2 separate regions of the Homo sapiens genome follow, and region 1 is reported to be linked to region 2. The links are microRNA targets in miRTarBase. Many come from high-throughput screens and were not tested one by one. Region 2 holds a microRNA gene; the other region holds the end of a gene's coding sequence.

Evidence for each region. Region 2 holds the annotated microRNA hsa-miR-6743-5p (AAGGGGCAGGGACGGGUGGCCC, at 1,894-1,915, opposite strand). A microRNA usually pairs through its seed, bases 2 to 8, with sites in the 3' UTR of a target mRNA and lowers its output. Matches are read on the target gene's strand: a 7mer-m8 pairs with bases 2 to 8, a 7mer-A1 pairs with bases 2 to 7 and ends in A, and an 8mer does both.
Region 1: the mRNA of TPRA1 is a reported target of hsa-miR-6743-5p. Seed matches in the 3' UTR shown: 7mer-m8 at 2,656-2,662, 7mer-m8 at 2,650-2,656 and 7mer-m8 at 1,836-1,842.

Annotation. Positions count from the first base shown.
Region 1 is chr3:127,570,230-127,574,229 of GRCh38, forward strand. It overlaps TPRA1 (transmembrane protein adipocyte associated 1), which reads right to left. Exons shown (of 11, transcript NM_001136053.4): 11 at 1,003-3,559. The coding sequence ends at 3,292. Among named protein-coding and RNA genes, the nearest start is that of MIR6825, 3.1 kb to the right of the region's middle.
Region 2 is chr11:207,108-211,255 of GRCh38, reverse strand. MIR6743 (microRNA 6743) reads right to left here and starts at 1,920; the gene lies at 1,850-1,920. BET1L (Bet1 golgi vesicular membrane trafficking protein like) reads left to right here and starts at 3,857. Exons shown (of 4, transcript NM_001098787.2): 1 at 3,857-3,953. The coding sequence starts at 3,935. RIC8A (RIC8 guanine nucleotide exchange factor A) reads right to left here and starts at 3,548. Exons shown (of 10, transcript NM_001286134.2): 1 at 2,318-3,548; 2 at 1,938-1,985; 3 at 1,256-1,849; 4 at 594-685; 5 at 1-57. The coding sequence starts at 2,401. RefSeq lists enhancers at 1,680-2,267, 2,342-2,961, 2,937-3,106, 2,962-3,583, 4,130-4,148 and silencers at 2,166-2,275, 2,346-2,635, 2,636-2,834, 3,896-4,015, 4,126-4,148.

The DNA.
Region 1 (4,000 bases), not on the chromosome of region 2:
GTGGACACCTTGATCTTGGAATTCCAGCCTCCAGAACTGTAAGAAAATAAACCCCTGTTGTTGAAGGCCCCCATCTATAGTACTTTGTTATGGCAGCCCTGGCAAACCCATACATCACTGGCCATGCGTTCACCCGTTATATCACCATGCTCCAGTGCTCTGGGTGGGTGGACCTGCAGGTCTCAGAGCTCTGCTGCTTCAGGGCCATGTGGCTGGCACTGAGCTTGGCAGCAACTGAGGACCCTGTGTCCAAGGTCTTCTTCCCTAAATTCTCAATGGTGACACCTCTAAGGTGGGTGCTTCACTGACCCACAAACATGAGGGTGCAGTTACTGAGGGAGGAAAAATGGATACCAGTGGCAACCAGTCACCTGCTACCCTGTACCACTAGTGAAGAAACTGAGGATCAAGGAGAAGCTGTGACCTGCCCAAGGTCCACAGTCCATGTGCAGCAGCAGTGGGAAGGTGAGATTAGACTTTGGCCACATACAGTGAACTCTGTCACCACGTTAAGACTCCAGAAACCTCGCATCCAGCCGCTCCTCTGCCTAATGCCTGTTCGCACCCAGACACCACACAGACGTGGTCTGAGCAGGGCTCTTCAGAAAGACTGAAAATGTGACTGGCATACCACGTCAGTGAGGATGTGCCGGTGGGAATGAAAGCTGGCATAGCCTCTTGGAATGGGTGTTTTGGTTCAGATTAGGTTCAACTGTAAGAGAAACATCAAAAGTGGTTTGAACAAGATAGCCACTCATTTCTCTCATACGTTCCAAAAGTCATCTGAAGGTAGGACGTCCGAGGTCGTTACAGATGCACTACAGTGTCCATGACACCGGCTCTCTCTATCCTGTCGCACTGCAATGAGAAACTTCCATTCCCCAGATTACCCTATGGTTCAAGATGGCTGCTATCACTCCAGCCATTATAAGCACATTCCAGTCAGCAGGAAAGAAGGGCCACCTCTTATCTCTAAGGAAGTTGCATGCATACTTACATCCATTGGCCAGAACCCACCTGCAAGGAAGGCTAGAAAATGCAGTCTTTATTCTAGACAGCTGTGTATCTAGCGAAAAATCAGGGATTCTCTTCCAATGGAGAAAAACAACATATATTGGAGGACAACTATTGATCTCTGCAGAAGACTAATAAGAGTAATTAAAACTAATTAAGACTGTGTGCTCCAGCAATTCTACTTGCATGAGTTACCAAAAGCAAATTTATAAGGATTGTTGATGTTGCCTTGTTTGTTGTTGCAAAATTTTTCAGAAACAAAAGGGAAGTGGTTTATAAATTGCCATATATCCATATATATGTAGCTGCAGGGGTGAAGCAGTCCTCCACTTGACATGGAATGATCTCCAAGATCCATTGGAGTGAGCTACAGGACATTAGCATTACAGAAAGAGGGATGATATACACATCCGTTGGTGTGAACACAGGATGGCTCTGGAAGGTTATGGAGACCCTGGGTGCTTCAGGAGGGGGACAGAGGAATTCAGTGCCACACAGGGAGATTTATCGTTCACCAAATACCCTCCTGTACTGCATGAACCTTTTTTTTTCTTGCCATGTACATATATGACCTATTTTTAAAAAACAAACTTAAAAATTATAAAAATGGTCTCTTTTCTTCTGTTGATGCCTCTCTGCTCATTCACTGCAGCCAGCAAACTTCGGCTGACACTGTGCCATCTTGGACTGCATGTGGATCTGATGGTCAAATCCCTGCTGGCCCCAACCCTTACCCCGCTCACTCAGAATGCCGTGAGCTTGCCTTCCCTGATTACCAGGCTTTTACATGAGCTGAGAGGCCCCGATAAAGTATGCCATTCAGGGGCACCCTGCAGTACCCCCTGCAGCCCAGGAGTCCAGCTCACTGGCCGTACTGTTGGCCCTGTCCGCTATCAACCCTCCAGGCCCTCCCAGGGAGCCTGACACATTGGCCCCACAGACATGAGCTGTGTTGGAGCTTGTGCCCTCGGCACCCCATTCCCCCCTAAAAAAAAAAGGCTGATCGCGGAGGCGGGCAACAGCCTGATCCTCAGGGTCCCCACAGCCAGGGCTGAGACCTCCCCAGGCTCTGAAGCATGCAGTTGGCTGTGTCCTGGATGGGCTCCTCCTCTCCAACTCTGGGGATTACATAACTGGCAGCAACTCCCTTTCACTCTGGCTGCCAAAAAGCTCAAAGCCGAACTCAGGTACAAGGGCAGTGGCAGGGACAAGTGGGCCCCTCTCCCCTACTCATGCCTTATGATCCCAGTGCTTTGCTCTGATTTACTCCCATTTTCAGCCAACCACACCCATCCTTATGACAAACATCAGTCCCCGAGTCCTGTCTGCTGGGGGCCTACTATGTGCCAAGCACTATTCTTGAGGCTAAAAATAAGAGCTATCCTTATCGTTCATTACTGTACGCCAGCCACTCGTGCTTAGTGTTTTCCAATCCTTACAAAAGGCCCTGCAGGATGGGTCTTCTCCGCATTTTACAGATGGCAATAGTAAGTCCATTCTGCGTTTTAATGGAGCTGAGCAGAGAGAACCGGCTGCCCAAGACAACAGTGTGTGTCTGACAAAGGGAGAGGGGCTGGCTCACAAAACATAGTTCTCCTCTCTCTCCATGTCTGTCCCCCCTACTCAGATGGGCCCAGGGGCAGGGGCAGCGGCAGCTGGGATCCTGTTTCTCTTCACCTCCCCAGCAGCCAGCCCAGGGCTTGGGCACTGGGGACTGCTCCTTGGTTGAGCAGAGGCCCCCTGAGCCTCCCAGCCCCTCACCCAGCCCTCAGGCTCCTGAAAGGAACCAGCCCCAGTATTCCTGCAAAACCTCCACATTAGCACCTTCTGCTCCTTTTCCTTTTTATTAAAAAATAGATCAAGAAAATATACACACTTCAGTCCATCCACCATGGTGGATGCTTTGAGGAGGCCAAAGCACCATGGGGATGGGATGGAGGCATTGGGAGAGCCAGCCCTGCCCTCGTGCCAAGGGTGCAGAGAAGGAGGGTGCCCTCAGCCAACCTTGCCAAGCATGGCCCTGGAAGGAAAGCCTGGGCCATGTCACTGAGCAGTATGAGAGCAGGTGGGAAGGGGAGGAGGGTCCCCAGTGAGAGCAGAGATGGCAAAGGGGATTGGGAGCCCCAGGGAGGTGGGGCCTCCAGACTCATGGTGGGAACAGGGCCACACAGGGCTACTGCCCACAGAACGTCCCTTGACCTGGTCCTCCTCCCCTGGGGACTCTGGGCCTGCTGGCCTCCTCTCTGGCCTGTCCTCCACAGGCCCTGGCAGCTGCCCTCAGGCATTGATGGCCTTCCAGCGCTCGCTGTCTGTGCTGTTGATGCTGCCAGTGTGGCAGGGCATGGAAGCGATGTCATCCAGGTAGGCCACCCCGCCGGCAGAGTCGAACTGCGTGCTCGAGTAGCTGGCAGCTGAGGCCCCAGCAGCCCCTGCAGCCTCCAGGCCCTCCCGCCGGGCCACAGCGTAGGGCTGGGGTAGGTGTACATCTGGCTCCTCTGTCTCGTCCACTTGGCATTTGTAGGAGAAGAGGATCTTGGGCTCCGAGCTGATAAAAGGAAAAGAGGGGCATGGAAGCCTCACTGAGTGATTCAGGAAGAGCCTTCCTCTCCAGGCTGATGGGGCCACCAGATAAGGAAGGAATTGACCAACAGTCGCCTGACACCCACTCTGAGTGGGCCTGTGAGCTGGACCCCAGAGCCCATCTAGACTTGTTTTGGAACCCAGCCCTCCTCCCCCTGGCTGTGTGAGCTCAGGCGGGGGGCATCTGTGCCTGCTTCCTCATGGTGAAATGGGTGTGTGGACACCGTGTGGAGGAAGAATGGACATAAATCATGAGGCTTCAACAGTGCCTGCCCAAGCACTCAGGAGACATTGGCTGTGGCCTCCGCCCCCACTCCTGTGACCCCTGCTGCTCATGTTACCACCCACTCCACTCTGACCTCGTCCCTCGGCCCTCAGGGCAACTCTCCAAGGGGGACACACTACA
Region 2 (4,148 bases):
GTGAGGAGAACATCCAGACACTTGAGGGGCAAGTTCCCCAGGAGGTTCACTGCGTGGCTGGGGACAGATGGAGGTAGGGGTTTCAACAGGGCTAATCCCTGAGCACAGGTGCAATCTTTGTGACTCCGCTGAACCACACATTACATGAGCTGGCATCTGAGTCCCAAAGGGGCAGCGCTAGGGACCAAAGCCAAGGGCAGGGACTGATCTGAGAGGCACTGCCACTCAGCTGTACAGTGGGGTCCCCTGGGGAAGTGGGGGCACTGAGACACACTGCCTCCCCGACCCTGTCTGAGCCAAAGCGCCAGACCATCTCTGGAAACCCAGACCAGCCTAGGGGCAGGTAGACCAAAAACGGGGACAAGGAACCAATGTGCCCTAGTAAGTACCATACTGTTGCCACTACCCAAGGCCCAGTTGGCACATTCCTGCCCCCAAATTCATGGCTATGTCCAGTCTCACTCACCCAGACAACGTCAGACTCTCTAGGGTGGGGCCTGGGCTCTCAGGTGGTTCTGGTTCAGAGCCGGGGTTGAGGACGACCATCTAGACATGTGGGCACACTTCCCTCCCAGAAAAAGCCCCATTCTCACCCGTGGAACTCCTCTGTGCGGTCTCCAGCAGTAGCGATCATCACACAGTGCCGGAGAAGGGTCCCCAGGTGTCGGTAAAGGGCAGCGTCTTCCTGACCAAAGAAAGAAGGGTTCCTGTGAGGAGCCCCACTCATCCCACTGCTGCCTGCTGAGGCTCCACTGTCTGTTGCACTCCAGGACTGTGTGGCAATGACTGTGCACCTCCTGTACTGCATACCTGGTCCCCTGGGGTCTTCCTAGGTGACTCTGGGTAGTGCTGGGGGCAAAAGATGACCACTGCTGTCTTCCTAAAAACTCCATGAGTATTCTTCTAAGAGCACTTCCCTGATTAGGAATGCTAACACATACCTTAGGGATGAAGTCACACTCTGTCTCAGCCCCACTCACAGCCTCATGGTGGAGGATCTCTTACAGTCTCCCCAGACACCACACAGCCCTCCTGCCAGGCAGCAAGAGCCAGAAGGGGCCTCTACTTCCCTCAGAAGCCTTTCCTGAGGTCCCAGCCCAGAACTGGCATCTCCTTGGCCTTGTCCCAACAGGCTGGGAGGTCCTGTCCTCTCCATGTCTGACACCCAGAAACCTGAAGGTACCCAGTAGGAAGCAGGTCCAGGAAATGTTGGAGCTGAGTTGAGACCCATCCATGGGTTAAGGTCAGTGCTCACCTCGTCCACCTCCCCCTTGATGGAGTCCAGGGTGATGTTGAAGAGCACTTTGAGGATCTCCATGGCCCGCTCAGTCTCTTGGGAAGGAAGGAGCGTGGGTGGGGGGTTCCCTTCAGGAGTCACCCCCAGCGTCAGCTCCAGTGTGTCAGTTAGCAGGCGCACTCCTTTCAGCTCCTGAAACAGCTGCTGGCGCACATCGGTGCGGAGTGCCGTTAGCAGGAAGAGGAGCCGCAAGTCAAAGAACTGGACATCGTGGGGGAAGCTCCTCTCACGGTACAGCCCCACACGCTCTGTGAGCTTCACCACTAGGCGGGCCTCTGCTGCCAGCATCTGTGCCACAGGGCTGCTGAGCACGAGGTTGCACAGGCACTTGAGGGACTCCAGTACAACATCCATGTCTGCGGACTCTGGGACGGACCCCTCAGAGACAGAGATGTCAGCATAGCAGGCTAGTGCCTGCAGGCTCTGGCGGCTGGTGAACGGGTCCAGGCAGTTGCGGTCCCGGGACAGGATTCGGACACTCTGCAGCCAGATGACACGGTGGGAGGGTGGCAAGCCCTGTTCCAGGACGGAGACCAGCAGCTCCGCCAGTCTCTGTGGGCAGGGAGAAGAGCGGCTCCACCAGGCCCTTCTTCCTGGGGCCACCCGTCCCTGCCCCTTTACCCCTTGGGCCAGCACCCACCTTCCGGTCCTCCTGTTGGGCATCATCAAACGTGAAGCTCTGGGAGTGCTGCAGAGAGAACTAGTGAATTCAAATCCACAGAGGGGTAGGATCCGCGTCCGCTGATGCGGGCGGCCTATTGGCCTCTAACTCAGGCAGCAGCCACTGCTCAGAACGGATGGCAGGGTCGGCACTCGCCCCCATCCCTACACGCCTGCCACCCAACGGGTGCACCCCCACTCTCCCCGCAACACTGCATCCCAGACCTGCCCCCCGCACCCCGCCGCGTCCCCTACGCTTGCTGACACAGCCTCTGCCTCACCCACGCCCTCCCTGCTACCCGCGCACGACCCTGCCCCACCCCCTCCGTGCCCGCCCCCCGGCCTCAGGCGGCCGCTTACCTCCTGGTTGTATGACCGCAGAGCTTCCATAATCACATCCTCCTCACCCGTCTCCACGGCTTCTGCAACCGCCCGGGGCTCCATGGCGCGCCGGGGAAGGCGGGACGGGCCCTTCCTCAGCCGTTCCGGGCCGCAGTTCGCCGGCCCCGCCCTGGCCCAGAAAGCCCCGCGCCAGCGCGCGGGGGAGGCCGGGACGGGGCGCGGCGTCTGGTGGCGCTTTAACGGGGCGCAGCGTCTGGTGGCGCTTTAAGGGGGCGCGGCCTGAGGCAGAACTGGCGGCTCGGAGGTTTTAAGACCCGAGTCGAGGGGCTGAGTCGCTCTGAACCGAACTGACCCCTCTCCTTGTGACCCGCGCTTCTTGGGCCAGAAGTTCCAACAGGAAACGATCTCAGCCCCCACCGTGCCCTGCCACACACACAGTGACGCCCCTCGAGCTCCACAGAACCGATGGGATGTAGAGGGGAAAGCCGAAGTGGAAAGGAATTTTCAGTCCTGGGCCATTGGGTTCGTTAGGCGTTTGCTGGGGAATGCAGGCGAACGGGATTCCCAGGTCCCTGCCTTTGTGGAGCTTATGTTCCAGAGGGGAAGGGGGACAAGGAAAAACAAAAGGACACGAGGCGGTCACAGGGCTGTGCTTCAAAAGAAGCAAAAGGCGACTGCTGGGCTGCAACGGGCTGTGAGGAAGTGCTGTTTTTGCTGACACCGGACGGTGGGAAGTGAGCCGGGAAAAGACTGGAGGAGCCACTCCAGGCAGAAGGAGCAGCACTTGCAAAGGTGGAGGGGCCGAGAGAAAGGGGAGCAACCCAGTCTGGCCTGGACTCAGTTCCCTCTTGAAAAGCAAAGATCCTGCGTGTCCGTTTCAGTGGCCGTCATGAGGATTCAGTGACGCACAGGAAGCGCGATCCACTCGCTCTTCTAACAAGTGCCCGGGAGCAAAGGCGTCTACGGCCCCCAGTCCCCGCGCCGCCTCCCAGTCTCTCTCCCGGCTTCACTTTCCTGTAGTGCGTTCTGTACGGCTGTATTCGACGCGGCGCGCACTCGCAGGCACGAGCGAGGCGCCGATCTCCACTTGACAGAGGAGGCACCCCTGCCCCCACCACACCCAGTGCTCCTCGCGGGCTTCTGCCCGAGGGGTCTGCTCCTTCCTCATGACCCGCCTGTGAATCCTTCCTAACCGTTAGGACCTAACCCACAGAAGCGTCTTTCCACCACCATCGTCTAGGCACTGAGCAAGCAAACGGCCCCGCCCCGCCCCACGTTCACAGGAACACCAAACGTCACATCCGCGGTGCTGCTGTAATCCCAGCACCTTGGGAGCCCGGCAGGCGGGGGCTGCAGTGAGCTGAGATCGCGCCACTGTCTGCGCGACAGTGCTGAAAATAAGCCACAGATATGCCCATCGCTTCCGCGCCCGGCAGTTCCCCACCCTCGGCCCTAAGCCGGAAGTCAGCGAGCCCGAAGCGGAAGGGGCTGGGCTATCTAGGGGCGTGGTCGGTGCGGAGGCGGGGCCATCGCTAGCTGGGGGCGGGGCCGGAAGCTCTTTCCCCGCGACTGCGCCACGTCTGAGGCGGCTGTGGCCGCGTCGGTGTCCGCGTCGAGGAGCCGGGGCAGGGCACGATGGCGGACTGGGCTCGGGGTGAGCGCGGGAGAGCGGAGCCGTTGGGGGCAGGGCCGGGCCGAAACCGACGCCGCTGCCTGTAGAGCCGCGTGCGCCTGCCTCTGGCCCAGCTGGGGTGACCTCGGCCGAGAGGACCCTGTCAGGGGGGCGGATTCGGATCCTTCCGGGTCCGAGCAGGGCCGGGTTTCGGCCGGCACTGCCGTTAGGACCGAA